2 linked regions of the Homo sapiens genome follow. The protein of the gene in region 1 interacts with the protein of each later gene in a pairwise test. Each region holds a gene or a part of one and is shown on either strand. Other genes may lie near its edges.

The links.
Region 2: the proteins of ACIN1 (region 1) and PNN interact in binary tests that used the Homo sapiens proteins (3 or more experiments, as listed by UniProt).

What each region holds. Positions count from the first base shown.
Region 1 is NC_000014.9:23,063,939-23,071,206, reverse strand, and holds part of ACIN1 (apoptotic chromatin condensation inducer in the nucleus), read left to right. Parts: exon of another isoform or gene 1-59; coding exon of another isoform or gene 60-82; intron 83-1,589; coding exon 1,590-1,731; coding exon of another isoform or gene 1,732-1,827; exon of another isoform or gene 1,828-2,505; coding exon of another isoform or gene 2,506-2,595; exon of another isoform or gene 2,596-2,742; coding exon of another isoform or gene 2,743-2,946; exon of another isoform or gene 2,947-3,847; intron 3,848-5,198; coding exon 5,199-5,241; intron 5,242-6,718; coding exon 6,719-6,852; intron 6,853-6,949; coding exon 6,950-7,102; intron 7,103-7,268.
Region 2 is NC_000014.9:39,170,520-39,178,418, reverse strand, and holds the start of PNN (pinin), read right to left. Parts: upstream 3,166-7,899; 5' UTR 3,140-3,165; coding exon 3,027-3,139; intron 2,641-3,026; exon of another isoform or gene 2,539-2,640; intron 2,342-2,538; coding exon 2,270-2,341; intron 1,893-2,269; coding exon 1,824-1,892; intron 1,008-1,823; coding exon 935-1,007; intron 827-934; coding exon 732-826; intron 579-731; coding exon 503-578; intron 1-502. UniProt on the Homo sapiens protein: Transcriptional activator binding to the E-box 1 core sequence of the E-cadherin promoter gene; the core-binding sequence is 5'CAGGTG-3'. Capable of reversing CTBP1-mediated transcription repression.

The sequences.
Region 1 (7,268 bases):
TGTTATTTCTTCCATTCCAGAAAGGGATAAACAGCACTTCCAGGGGGAGAAAAAAAATCATGTTATCAGAAAGCAAAGAAGGGTGAGAGCTTCACATTTCCATGTATGCCTTTTCCCCGCCGCCCTAGCTCCCTTCGTCTTCCTTCTCTTCCTCATGGCTTTCATTCCGTCTTTCGTTTTGGTTTGTTTTCAGTCATTCTGCCTTCCCCCTTTGTCCTGCCTGCCCAGTTTCTAATTGGCCCCACATGCCCTTTCTGTATGGGAAATAGATATTTTTTTTGTATAAGCCTTTTCTCTAGATGTAAGCAGCTAAATCTCGTGTTTCTCTGGGGGCCTGTTTAGCTGGGGGCACAGTTCCGATTTTCCCCTCCCCCTAACCCCCCTAGTGCATCCCTTCTTGACTGCTCTAGGGAGGTTCTTCTGACCTCTGAGTGTCAGTCAGTCAGCCTGTTGGGAATGCTGACTTTTCTGGTGGTGGTTATCGGCCTGGGAGGCTTGGTTTCCCCTCTCCTGAGCCTTAGGCCTCTGATCATCTTGATTTGATTTTTTTTGCTTGGTGTTTGGGTGGTAGAGGGGGTGAGATTTGAGATAGAAGTTGGGGACGAAGACAGAAATCAAAGGTGGAAAGATAGTTTATCTGAAGTGAATCTCTGGGATTCTTTGCCTGAAATGGGAGCTAACTTGTGAGATTAAGAGTGGGAGAGTGGGTTTGGTGTTCTTGGGGGAAGCTGCCTGTGTGGGGGAGGGTGTGTCCTGACTAGGAGGCCTGCTCTCTTTATCTCTTGGAAGTTGGAATGAGGGAGTGGGAGAAACTGGGTGAAAGCCGAATGTAGGAACAGTTTCTACACCTCTGAGCAGGTAAAAGTGGCCCTAATCTCTGAGCTCTCATACTCAATTCAGCAGTTTTAATTTTTCCTTTTGAATGAGAGAGGGTCCTTGAAGCTTGAACCTTCACCAGGCCTGCTTCTTCCCTGCAGCTCCCACCCCCCGCCCCGCACCCCCCACCCCCCACCATTTTCTCCATGCTGGTGTCTCCAGATCCTGAGGATCAGCAGGCCTTTACTTATTAAGCAGTTGATTAAACACAGGTCAGGCTTTTTTGCCAAAGCCTTGGCCATTCTTTCTTGTCTTTTTAAGGGAATCGGGCTTCCCTTCGTTTCTCGTGCAATTTTGCCATATAAAGGTGCCTTTGGCCAGGGAGACTGAGGCCACAGGGTTGTGGGCAAATCACAGTCACTTTTGTGGGACTATTTTCAGAGGAGGGTTTTTCTCCTTTCATATAGGAGTACTCTGGTGAGTTATTACCTGAGAATAGTTGGAGTCCTAACCCCACAAATGACAACTTTTAACTCATCTGGGCAATAGGTGGATGTGGTTGCTGTGATCCACGCTCTTTCCCCAAGGAAAATCTATTTCCCACTTTTCCCATTGGGACAAGGTCTCTAACCTTGATCAGAAAAGCAGCCCTCCTAATCCCACCCAAGTGATGAGGCAGGAGGGTTTCCTGACCCAGTAACTAACATCTTGCTCTCTCTTCCCCTTGGTTCTTTTCTGCCCGCCCCCCCACCACCACTCCCCCCTCCTGTCAGTGAGGAGAAGGAGGAAGTGACCATGGACACAAGTGAAAACAGACCTGAAAATGATGTTCCAGAACCTCCCATGCCTATTGCAGACCAAGTCAGCAATGATGACCGCCCGGAGGGCAGTGTTGAAGATGAGGAGAAGAAAGAGGTAAACATCCAAGCCACCTATTGGGGCGGGTGGGCAGGAATGGACCTAGGGGAAAGAGTAGAGCACTCTAGTGATCCCTCTTACACGGTGGGTTAACTTAAAGGAGGGATGAGGCAGGGACTTGGATCAGAATAGGGCCAAGGGAGAATTCGCTGGTTTAGCAAGGGAGACCCCTTGTGACGGGGACAGGGCTCATTCATTTTCCTTTCCTTGTTGGGGAAGTAGTGCCCAGACTCTAGACGTTTGTAACTAACGGGAAAGTCTGATAATGGCCCTTTATCTAAGATTTATGTTCAGCTTTTCCTGCTGTCTTCCCAAGCTTCTCCTGGTGGTAACTCCTTTAGCTTTCCCTCCTTTTTAAAAGCCTGATGGAGCCCAACGCCATCTAGTGGACATTGGTGGTTCTCACCAGACCAGCCATGCTGAGAAATTTTTGTTCCTCCTCTGCCCTCCAGTGGTCTGACTGCAGAGATGTAGCTACTTAGAAGCCAGCACTTGTGATCCGGAAGGCCCATTCTCAGTTACCTGTGACCCCTCTACCTCCTTTTTTGGCATATGTTATCTTGTGTCCTGCACCCACTTCAGGGGGCTTCCCCCATCAGAGCCAGCGAAGTCTTCTTGGCTCTTAAAGTAATTGAGAAAGAATGAGCTGGGTTTAGGAGAGGGGTAACAAGGTGGGAGGGACTGTTGTGTGTGTAGCCTTTTTCTGGTGTGTGTTGCGGGGGTGGGGGCCGGTGAAAGTGATTTGATGTGCAGAATATTATTTATTACAAGGTCCTTCTTCCCCGTAAAACTTTGTCCAAGTACCTCATGTACGGTAATCCGCCCGTAAAATATAACCCTGCCCAACTGGCCAATCGCTGATGCCGCCTCTTCCTCTGGACCCACCCGCTGCTACTGAGCTGCCCAATCAGAGCCAAGTCTGCTATCCAGGTGTCTTGGCCAGAGGGGGGCATGTATATGGGCTCCTGTGATGGGCCCCCTTTTGCCTCCCTGTCTTGCTTACATCAGGGGGCCAAGAAGAACACTGTTCTGGAGAGACTTGTATTGAGCAAGCAAAAAACATTTGGAAAGGGGTGGACTTGCATCATCTCCCTACTTGGGACACCCCAAGAAGAGCTTGTGCCAGTGCTGGGGCGCCTGCCCACATGCCCTTGCCCTTTTGAGGACTGTGGGTTGCCTTGTTTGCTACAGACTGTTGGGATCCCCATCTAGGGCACCAAGACCTCCTAAAGTTTGTGATCGCAGTGCCATGCTGTAAAACACTGAGTGGGACCCTCTACTTAAGCTGTGACGACTAGGAACCGTGCAGAGGAGTCTAGGGTCTGAGCCCCTGGGGATTTAATGCTGATGACAGCCCAGCCCATGTGTCACCACTTGCTCATCAGATGGACTTTCCTTTGGTCCCTGTTGTCCATGGTGAAGGGCAGCATGTTGGTTGCTCCAACTTCTCCTCCATCCCTGGAGGCAGGGACTCATTTCATCCACCTGACTGGAACCACTGTCTCAGCTGGAGTCCCTGAGGAGATGCCAGCCACAACTCTCCGAAGAGAAGTATTCTGACCTTGCTGCTGAATGTCTGCCAGGTCCTGGGGTATTCACCTACCCCCAGGCTACCTTCATCAGAGGCTCCATGATCCCACTCGGTGAGAGGACCCCCTCCCCAGTTACAGGCAGAGGAGAAAGGGACTCTGGAGTCATCACCTGGATTCCAAGTATTGGGTGGTGTTATTGCTGCAGCTTGCCACTGGTGGACATAGGGTCCTGCCTGCCTCTCACGATAAAAGGCAAGGATCATTCCTGCTACTCACAGGCCATCTCATCAGGGACTGCAAGATGATGTCCCTTCAGGGCCAGGACTGATGTCTCTGCCCCTTTCCCCCCTCTATCCCTCGCTGAGCCTGGCCACCGCCAGTGAACTGTCTTGACATCATGGAAACTGGGCAGCGTCCCCCCACACGTTTCCCTCCCGCCCCCCCTGCGCCCCTGGGAGGACTCTGGCAGTGCCGTGCTGACTACCACGCCGTGCGCCCACCTTTTTTGCCAACCCAACCCCCCACCAATTGCACAGCGCCTAGCAGGGAGGGCTCATTCTGATTGGACCGGCGGTTGACTAGATACAGTACACAGTGAGGTGCGATTGGCTGAACTGAAGATCCCAGGTGTGAGATGGTACCTGGAACATTTGTCATATTCCTAGTTTATTTTCTTCTTTATTTTCTTCTTCTTTTTTTAATATTTTATTTTATTTTTTTCTATATCTTTATTTTTTCTGATTTCTTTTATTTATTTATTTGGTTCATGTTTTTCCTGTTTTAATTAAGACCTTTTTTTTTGTTTTGTTTTTCTCACTAACTTACCCATCGAGAGCGGCCCAGCTAGGGGTCAGGCTGGCCCTTAACAGAGACCAAGGAGACTTGGTTAGACGACACAAACGGGGCTGCGGGTGGGGGTGGATGGGAAAGGGATTTCATCACGAGGTTTCTGCCCTACCCTTTAGAAGAGTGGTAGAGTGGTCTTAGTTTTTCCAGAAATAAGCACCTACACTTGAAAATACTCTATTCCCTTTTTCTCTCTCACTTTTCTCCCCCGCCCCCCATAGTCTTTCGTCATTCACCCACTGAGTGTTTGGGGTAGAGACTTGTCCCAAAGATGTCTTCTGGTCTTTGGCAGAGCCCCTAAGGCTTGAGCCCTGGTTGGAGAGGAAACAGTAAGACTCTGCTGGAGCTCCCTGCGGTGGCTGGAAAGTCTAAGGATCTCCTTGGGGACAATCTGCCCTTCATAAAAACCTTCCTTTATCAAAGACACCTTTGAGTTCTTTTTGCTAGCACTTGGCTCAAGAGCCTCATCTCCAGTGGGTCTGGTGCTGCCCTTTTCCACAGTGTGGTGGGGGTCTGGGCAGTCTTGACATGACAGTCTGCTGTCCAAGCATCTCAAAGCCATTGTCAGTGGGCATCAGTCTGGCCATTGAAGAAAGGAGGGTTACCTTGTTGAAGTTGCCATCCAAAGTTGGTTTTCCTTGTTTCCTCGAGTTAGCAAGGAAGGACCTGGGAGGACTAGATGACCCAGTTTGGGGCACAGTTTGTTTGGCTTGGTGTCCTCTCGACTCAGACGGTGAAAGAGGGGGTATGACCAACATCTTTAGGGGGCTGAGAGGCTACTGAACTCCTCTTCCAGCTTATTTCTGGTTAAGCTAATACACAGGTGTGATACGGAGTAGATGACTTTTCCCTGCTCTGATGTTTAGTTTTATTTTTTTCTCTAACTTGCATTGATTCTGCTTCGTTTTTGCCGTTTGCCGCTTCTGTTTTGGTCTCTGTCTGTCTCTGTGTCTCTCTCTGTCTCTCTCTCTCACTCTATCTGTGTCTTTGGAGGCTAAGCTAAGACTGCCCCATCTAACCTCCTTCCCCCCTCTCTGTGGGGTGTCTCTCTTTCTCTTTTTTTTCCCCTTTTTCTTCTTCATACAGAGCTCGCTGCCCAAATCATTCAAGAGGAAGATCTCCGTTGTCTGTAAGTCCAGCCCCAAATCCCTGATAAAAGTCAGGAATACCATAAAAACCAGCATTCATTGAGAACCAGAATTTCATTCTCAATGGCATTCTTGGGTCACTCCCTCCTGCCCCACCCCTTGTGCCTAGCAAATCTGAATCCTTTCCTATGTAGGGTTTCATTTTGGAATTCAAAACTTGAGACAATCCCCATCATATTGCTCCAGTCACATTTTAATGAGATACAGTGTGAGGTGTCTGAGACCATGTCCCATTTAGCCTTAGAGGCATTTATTCTTTCAGATACCTGAATACTCAACAAGGAATGAGTTTCAGGGACTCCTATGTGATGCTTAGCAGTTTATGAATTATTCTGGGTATTTTGTTGTTGTTTTTTTGAGACGGAGTCTCCCTCTGTAGTACCCTAGGCTGGAGTGCAGTGGTGCGATTTTGGCTCACTGCAACCTCCGCCTCCGGGTCCCAGTTCAAGCAATCCTCCTCCGCCTCCTGAGTAGCTGGGATTAGAGGCATGCGCCACCATGCCCAGCTAATTTTTGTATTTTTAGTAGAGATGGGGTTTCCCCATGTTGGACAGGCTGGTCTTGAACTCCTGACCTTGTGATCCGCCTGCCTTGGCCTCCCAAAGTGTTGGGATTACAGGCGTGAGCCATCGTGCCTGACCTTGTTTATGCGTTATTCTAAGAGAGCACCCAAGGAAATGAAAGTGCCCCACACCTCAAACAGTAACAATTTTAACATTTTCCCCAATGAGGAACTCTAGATTACAAAAGTATAATAGATGTTTATAACTTAAATATCAATCTGTAGTGTGAAAATTAAAGGAAGACCAGATCCCATCATGATCTTAGTTCTGCCTAGATGTTAGTATCACATAGTGTTCTTGTTTCTTCTGCATTTACATGTCCTTCTCAGTTTTTCTTCCACACTACTTGATATTACTGTCTACCATTAAAAGTTTAAACGGCTCATCAAACTAGCTACCCCTCCCTTACTGCTTTTAGATCAGTGTTCAGTCTGAAGCCATGGTTTCCCCAGTTCCCAAATATGATTTCTTTTCTTTTTTTTTTTTTGAGACGGAGTCTTGCTCTGTCACCAGGCTGGAGTGCAGTCAGTGGCACCATCTTGGCTCACTGCAGCCTCCGCCTCCCGGGTTCAAGCAATTCTGCTTCAGCACCCTGAGTAGCTGGGATTACAGGCATGCACCACAACGCCTGGCTAATTTTTGTATTTTTAGTAGAGATGGGGTTTCACCATGTTGGTCAGGCTAGTCTCAAACTCCTGACCTCGTGATCCACCCGCCTTGGCCTCCCAAAGTGCTGGGATTACAGGTGTGAGCCACCACACTCAGCCTCCAAATATGATTTCTTTAAGTTAACCTTTTACCAAAACTCCAGCCAGAGGTAACCTGTAGGTATTACGGTTTGAACTAGCAGAGGTCCTGAGACCATCTAACTGTTGGGTCTATTTCTTGGGGACAGCAGCTACCAAGGGGGTGCCAGCTGGAAACAGTGACACAGAGGGGGGCCAGCCTGGTCGGAAACGACGCTGGGGAGCCAGCACAGCCACCACACAGAAGAAACCTTCCATCAGTATCACCACTGAATCACTAAAGGTGAGGTGGGAGGAGCCAGGGAAGGGAGGATGAGACCTGTTAAGGTGGGAGTAGACATGGGCCCAGTGTAACGGGGTGGGGGGTATCTGTGTCCCAGAGCCTCATCCCCGACATCAAACCCCTGGCGGGGCAGGAGGCTGTTGTGGATCTTCATGCTGATGACTCTCGCATCTCTGAGGATGAGACAGAGCGTAATGGCGATGATGGGACCCATGACAAGGGGCTGAAAATATGCCGGACAGTCACTCAGGTAAGGCTTCTGCACCCCAGTGTCAGGGGAAAGGTGGGAGCAGTAGATGCAGAGCAGCTAGCTGAGGAGCTGAGATAAAGTCTTTGGAGGGAACTTCCCTGTCTGTGCAGAGGGTTGGGTTGACTGACACTTTCAGGGGTCAGACTACCAAATCCAGCTGGCTACC
Region 2 (7,899 bases), about 16 Mb from region 1:
CTGGGGATTACAGGCGCATGCCACCACAGGCGGCTAATTTTGTATTTTTAGTAAAGACAGGGTTTCACCATGTTGGCCAGGCTGGTCTCGAAAAACTTCTGACCTCAGGTGATCCACCTGCCTCAGCCTCCCAAAGTGCTGGGATTACAGGCATGAGCCACTGCACCTGGCCGCTTCACATTTTCAATTCAGGATACCAACTAACTAGAACTTAGCACTTGGTACTGACTGTAATTTGTCTTTAAGGAAATGGAGACTTGAGGCTTTTTTTTTTCACATATCTAAATTTCAAGGCTATTAGCTATGATATCAACAACTGTTATATTCCAACACAATGTTTAAGTAAAGCTGTTCTATAAGAAGTTAAACCAAGTTTTTACTTGGCTTTGTTTCAGGTTTACAGTTAGGTCTTAAAAGAGCTTTAAGGATTTTTTAAAAAAAACATTAATCTACTACTTTGATAACTTAAATATATGATGCAAAACAAAACTTGGATAAATACCCTTTCAGTAGCAACAGTGGATTCTTGTTTAAATTTTTGAAGGGTACCCATCAACAAGCCAAATATTCGCCGGTTCCTAAAGAACAGAATAAGAAAATTTACTGTCAACAGGATCCATTTCATTTAAACCCATCATTTTCTAAGAAATACTACAGGATGCTTGAACAATCCCTTGATTTTCCTTATAACTGCATTATTTCACTAGAGTTTTTTTCCCCCAGGGAAATACCTTTGCTTTCCCTTTTCATCCATATTTTGATCCTGGATAAGGTCTCTACGTGTGCGCTCTTTGGAGGTAGCTACAACTGAAGACTGCAATGCTGGCTGCAGAAAAAGAAAATCTCAGTAATTTAACTAGCATATGAGTGGTGTGCTTTTAAATGTAGTAAAGTGAAGGTACTACATTCATTTAAGTTCTTTCAATCTCAATACCTTTTTAACATCATCATCCTCCGGGTCGCTTTCCTGGCGTGATTCTCTTCTGGTCCGACGCTCCCCGCCCAGCCTGTCATAGAAAATATTAATTTTTTTGAGACAGGGTTTCACTATACCACCCAGGCTGAAGTGCAGTGGTGCCACCACGGTTCACTGCAGCCTCGACCTCCCAGGCTCAAGTGATCCTCCTGCCTCATCCTCCCAAGCAGCTGGGACTACAGGCGTGAGCCAGCATGCCTGGGTAACTTTTTTGTACTTTTTGTAGGGATGGGATTTCACCATGTATCTAGGCTGTTCTCCAACTCCTGGGCTCAAGTGATCTGCTGGTCTTGGCTTCCCAAAGTGCTGGGATTACAGGGATGAGCCACTGTGCCTGGCCAAAAATTAATTTAAATGACCACTGAGGTATTTATGTAACTGCACACCAAGGGCAAATGCCCTCTCTTCTAGGACTCGTTTCCAGAAGCTTTGTTCTATCAAGTCTCCATCCCATTTTATTCTTTCCTCCAGCAGAGAAAGGATACTACAATGTGTGAACTAACGCCCAAACCAATTTTGCTCTCCTGTATTTTCTAAGTATTTCAAACTGGTTAAGTTTTTCAAGTACAAGTCAGAAAAAATGGTACTAATTGACAATTTTTCCAATTTTACTCTTCACATGACCTTTATTTGGATAAAATTTAGGTTATCATGAGTGCAGAACTGCGTTTTGAGGGAACTGATAGTCAACTGTTCAGTCAAATACCAACAGAACTTGGGGGGGGCAGGGAGTGGCATACCACTCAATTTTAATATTGCTGAAACAGAATTATTGTTAATAAACATTTATATTTGTGTGGTACCTCAGAAACTAAAGAAGCCTTCAGGAATCTTTTTTTAAACCTACCTACTGACTGCCCCTTCAAGGTCTCTCTGTTTGGCTGGGGGTCCTCCTCCACTATCTGAGAATCCACGCCTGAAATTTAAAATGTTCAACATAAAACACTTGAAATACAAGATAAATGGTATTTCCATTTGACAAGAGAATATGGTTAAACTTTCAAAAATCTTTCCAACTAAAGTAGCCTTAAACGGGCATTCATTCCAAAATGCTTTTATAGTGTTACTTTATAAGAATTAAGTTCACTCAAAATTGGTAAACTTAATATATTCTTCAACCTCCAGTTTTTCAGGATAACTATATTTATACAGAAATCTAGTCTATTACAACATTAAACAAAACAAAGACGACAAACACTGGGTTATTGATTTTATCACAGGTTTTGTTCAAACCAACATATTTAGTAAAGTACCAGTAGTTTCAGCATGAGTAAAGTCCAAAGGAAATCTTACCTCAGTAATAAACTACCACGTCCTCTACCTCCACCAGGACCAGAAAGGGCCAGCAATCTGGCTTGGATGGGCCTGTAAAAGATTTACAAATCAGTGCAAAATCATATGTAGACACACACAGTCGCACCCAAATACTTTCAGAGATGTGGATCATAAGGAGAAAAAATCACAAAAGTTCCAAAAAGATAGTTTCAAATAAATCTAAATGTCTGAAACAGGACAGGAAGTACTATTTCATTTAACTTCCTCGTTTCTCCAGGACCTGTGTCACAGAAATTATATTCACCTCGATGCCCCCACACATTAACAAGCCTGGATCAGGTCCCCATCCCGCCATCCCCGAGGAGGCTGCACGTGGACAGGAAGCTGGGGTAAGGCGGCTTGTTGCGTCCCGGCAGGGTCTCGGGGCCAGCAACGGGCCGGGTGTCCGCCGGAGCGGGAAGGGGCTTTGTGCTGCAGTTCCGGGCCTGCAGGGCCGAGAGCGGGAATCAGCAGTCCGGGTCTTCTCACAGGCCAAGAAAGCATGCCGGCGCACCCAGGCCTCGCTCTCCTTCCTCAGGGACCTGAGACCAGCGCTCTACGGAGGGGACCTGGGGCCTCTCCACCTCGGCGACAACAGGGTTTTACCCGCCGCCCCGCGAACAGGCCTCGAGGTTCCAGTCTTCTTAAGGCTGGCCGCCCTCCCCGCCCCCAATTCACCCCGACCTGAGGGCTGCCTCTCCGAGCTCCGAGTTCCGAGTTCCCGTTAGGCCCTTACCTCACGTCATTCGGATCCCGCCCGGTGAGCTTGCGAATGTTCTCATCCACGTTCTTAAGACTCTCTTTGGCCTTTTCCAGCTGTTCCTGCAAAGTTCTCACGGCGACCGCCATCTTCTCCCTGCGGCAGGCTTGAGACTGCTTTACAGGCCGAGCCGGGCTATGCCGCGCCGCCGAGGCGCGAAAGGACTGACAGCCGGGCTCAGCCAATGACGATGAGCGTTGTCTTCCGGCCTCAACCACTCAGCGACCGGAAGGGGGAAGAACCTGCAGCCTTTGTGACTCTGAGCCAATGAAAAGTCAGCCAGGCAGTCATCTCCCTCCCCAGTTAGCTGCGGGTGCCTGGATCCCGCTGCTAGCGCAGAGTCGGGGCGGGTTTCACAATCCCTGAGTTCTCGGAGACTTAGGCTCGCGAGTCTGCAGTTCTGGCAAGGGGAGCGCGGAGTTTTCTAGGCCTTTTAACCTATGATGTAATGTGCCTTACACCGTTTTAACGTGATCACATCAGAGTGGGACTTAGCCAAGCCTCCTTTTCTTCCTTACCCTCACCTTGGTTAATGATTTAATTAGGAAAGGGCGCGGCTATTCTGTTGGTGCGCATGCTCAGAGAGGGGGTGGGCGCGTGCTTTCCTCTATTAGGTTAATTTTTTTTTTTTCACACGGAGTCTCGCTCTGTCGTCCAGGCTGGAGTGCAGTGGCACCATCTCGGCTCACTGCAACCTCCTCCTCCCGGGTTCAAGCGATTCTCCTGCCTCAGCCTCCTGAGTACCTGGGACTACAGGCGCGCGCCAACACGCCTGGCTAATTTTTGTATTATTAGAGACCGGATTCCACCATGTTGGGCAGGCTGGTCTCGAACTCCTGACCTCAGGTGATTCGCCTGCCTCGACCTCCCAGGGTGCTGGGATTACAGGCGTGAGCCACCACGCCCAGCCTGATTAGGTTAAAGTGAGAAGAGGGAAGACAAAAATGAAAACTAGTAAAAGTCATTAGTCATAATGGCTAACGTTTGTTAGGGGTTGATCTTGTTCCCGACCCTCTGTGAAACCGTCTACATGCCTTATTTCTCACAAACTGAAAGTGTGGATAAAATGCCTGTTATTACTGATAAGGAAATTGAGACTGGAGATAATATAACTGTCCTTTGGTCACGCCAGTTGAGAATCAGTCTCTGATTAGACGCTGAGCATCTATACTAGAGAAAAGAAAGCAATGGCGAGACAGACACGCAGTCATGGTTGAGTTAGCCTCTTCACCTGGCCTAGAGCTGGTTAAGACCAGACCTAAGGGAGCGGCCCTGTTGTTAGTGGTGTCTGTGTGTGTTGTCCCGCTTCTGGTTCTGCCCTACCTGCACTGCCAATGTAGGAACTAGTTTTGTTCTATAAATATATATACAAATTGAAGCTCAGAAAACATTTTTTCACAGGCCAGGCACAGTGGCTCACGCCCGTAATCCCAGCACTTAGGGAGGCTGAGGCAGGTGGATCACTTGAGGCCAGGAGTTGGAGACCAGCCTGGCCAACATGGGGAAACCCCGCCTTTACTAAAAATACAAAAATTAGCTGGGAGTGGTGGTGTACGCCTGTAATCCCAGCTACTCGGGAGCCCGGGATGCGGAGGTTGCAGTGAGCCGAGATTGCACCACTGCACTCTAGCCTGTGCGACAGAGTGAGACTCCGTCCCAAACAAACAAAAAAACAAAACACTTTCCCACAGAAACAATGCTTTAAATAATCTCAGCCAGGCATCTATCTTCCTTGTACAAAGAATTAGTGGGCCCAGTGTATTAATTAACTCAAGCTACCACTTTAATCCAGCAATCTTTTAGAGCTTCCATTGTGTATCAGCAGTAAGCTAGGGTTTGAAAATAAAGCCTAGAACAAGATAGTTGTGATTCCTGCTTCTGTGGGGTTTGTAGGCTTCCAAAGGAGCAATGATCATTCATTAGTTCAACAAATACTGAGGGCCCACTATGTGCCAGGTGCTATTCTAGGCACTTGGGTATATCAGTGTACAATAAAGATCTCTGAGCAAGTCCAGTGGATTGTGCCTGTAATCCCAGATACTTGGGAGACTGAGGTGGGAGAATCGCTACAGCCCAGGAGTTAAGACCAGCCTGGGCAACATAGCAACGATCCTGTCTCTAAAAATAAAAATTTTAAAAATTGTACTGGAGAGGCTGAGGCGGGATGATTGTTTGAGTCCAGGAGTTTGAGACTGCAGTGAGCTGTCATCACACCACTGCACTCTAGCCTGGGCAGCAGTGAGACTCTGTCTCAAAAATAAATAAATAAATAAATAAATAGTATAGCATGTTAGAAAGCGGGAAGTACTATAGGAGAAAAAAATGTAGAGATGAATAATGGGGATGAAGATTGACAATTATCTAATTCTGATTGTGAGCATACTTAGCCTCATTGATCTTATTACAGGTCTGTGTACAACCTTAGGCAGTACCTGAGGCATGAGAGTGTGATAATAGTAGAGCGTATTCAGCAAGTGTAAGAATGTTTGCATGTATGGTCGGCCCGGTAATCCCAGGATTTTGGGAGGCCTTGGTGGGCGGATCACTTGAGATTGGGAGTTCAAGACCAGCCTGGCCAACATGATGAAACCCTGTCTCTACTAAAAATACAAAATTAGTCCTGCATGGTGGCAAGTGCCTGTAGTGTCAGCTGCTTGGAAGGCTGAGGCAGAATTGCTTGAGCCCGGGAGGTGGAGGTTGCATGCAGTGAGCCAAGATCATGCCACTGCACTCTGGCCTGGGCAACAGTGAGACTCTGTCTCAAACAAAACAAAACACACACAGCTGGGCACAGTGGCTCAAGTCTGTAATCCCAGCACTTTGGGAGGCCGAGGCAGGCGGATCACCTGAGGTCACGAGTTCGAGATCAGCCTGACCAACATGGAGAAACCCCGTCTCTACTAAAAATACAAAATGAGCTGGGCTTGGTGGTGCATGCCTGTAATCCCACCTACTCGGGAAGCTGAGGCAGGAGAATCACTTGAACCCGGGAGGCGGGGTTGCAGTGAGCTGAGATAGTGCCATTGCACTCCAGCCTGGGCAACAAGAGCAAAACTCTGTCTCAAAACACACACACACACACACCACACTCACTGTCCTTGCTTCCATAGGATCTATTCCTAGGAGCCTTGGCAATTTAACTTTATGGAGAAGGATAAGTAGGATGCTGTGTTCAATAGTTAGTAGGTCCTCATTAAATAAGTTTCCTTTCTATCCAGAAACGTACTTTAAAAGCCTCATGTTATTGTGGTTGGAGAAGTCAACTTTGATAAATTGGCCATTTACTTACTTTTTGACTTGTGTGGTGGACTTGGACTCCTTTTTCTTGATGGTAGTGATGAGGGCAAGAATGTCATCTAGACATAAAGGACCTGATTTCGCATAACTGAAAATTTAGTGCTGGAAAAATTAAGATTACCATGGCAAAATACTCTTCAAAATTACACAATTTAGTGTTTTCAAAGGCTTAAGTGGAGCTTTTATGCTGGATTTACGTGATGAATGGAATAAACTGATTCAAACATTAGAAGGGACATGCTTAAAAAAAAAACCTACCACAATTAAAATTTTGGAACATGATCTTAAATTCCTGTGAAAGGGCATGAAGAGTTTGTGTGTGTGTTTCGTTTTTTGAGACGAAGTCTTGCTCTGTCGCCCAGGCTGGAGTGCAGTGGCACAATTTCTGCTCGCTGCAACCTCTGCCTCCCAGGTTCAAGTGATTCTCCTGCCTCAGCCCCCCGAGTAGCTGGGATTACAGGCACCTGTCACCACGCCCGGCTAATTTTTGTATTTTTAGTGGAGACGGGTTTTCACCATGTTGGCCAGGCTGCTCTCAAAACTCATGACCTCGTGATCCCCCCCACCCCCCGTGCCTCGGCCTCCCAAAGTGCTGGATTTTACAGGCATGAGCCACCTTGCGGTATGTTAATTTGGGGGAAAACAACAGGGACAATTGGGGAAAAATTTTGTTTTGTGAATTACCAATGGAAGAACTAATCACAGGCTAAGCAACATGCTTACGGTTGAATTTGCCAAATTTAAGATGTACATACTATGATGTAGCATGTGTATTTATTTGCACATGCAGTGGGACAATTCCTACAGTTGTCTCACACTGCTGTAGATTATTAGCAACTCCATCCTGCAGTGACATCGCTTTTCTGAATTCTATAGCACTTTTCACCTAATCCTCTGATTAGTCTGTATTTTCCGGTTCAAGTGTATCTTGTTTTTCGTTTGCTCCACTTCCCTTGTCCCTTGCACCCCACTAACAGGAAAATTCCTGGTGGTCAAAATGGCTCTAATTCTTTTTGTATACCCGGGCTTAATTCAATAGGAATTGGGATAACTTTTCAATATTTAAAAAATTTGCACTGTGAAAACGTATATTTTAAACTCTTTCTACAACTTTTCATATTTGAAGAACATATGGCAGGAAGTGGATGCTTTTGATGAAGCCAAAAGAATTTTTTTAACTTCTATTGCTAATTAACAAGGAGGTGGCCGCGGGAGCTCTTTTTTTTTTTTTTTTTTTGAGACGGAGTTTCACTCTTGTTGCCCAGGCTGGAGTGCAGTGGCGCGATCTCAGCTCACCGCAACCTCCGCCTCCCGAGTTCAAGCGATTCTCCTGCCTCAGACTCCCGAGTAGCTGGGATTACAGGCATGCACCACCAGGCCCCGCTAATTTTGTACTTATAGTAGAGACGGGGTTTCTCAGGCTGGTTCGAACTTCCGACCTCATGTGATCCACCCGCCTCCGCCACCCAAAGTGCTGGGATTACAGGCGTGAGCCACCGCGCCCGGGCCAGGCGGGAGCTTTAGGTCTTATTTTATCTTGCTCTGCCCCCGA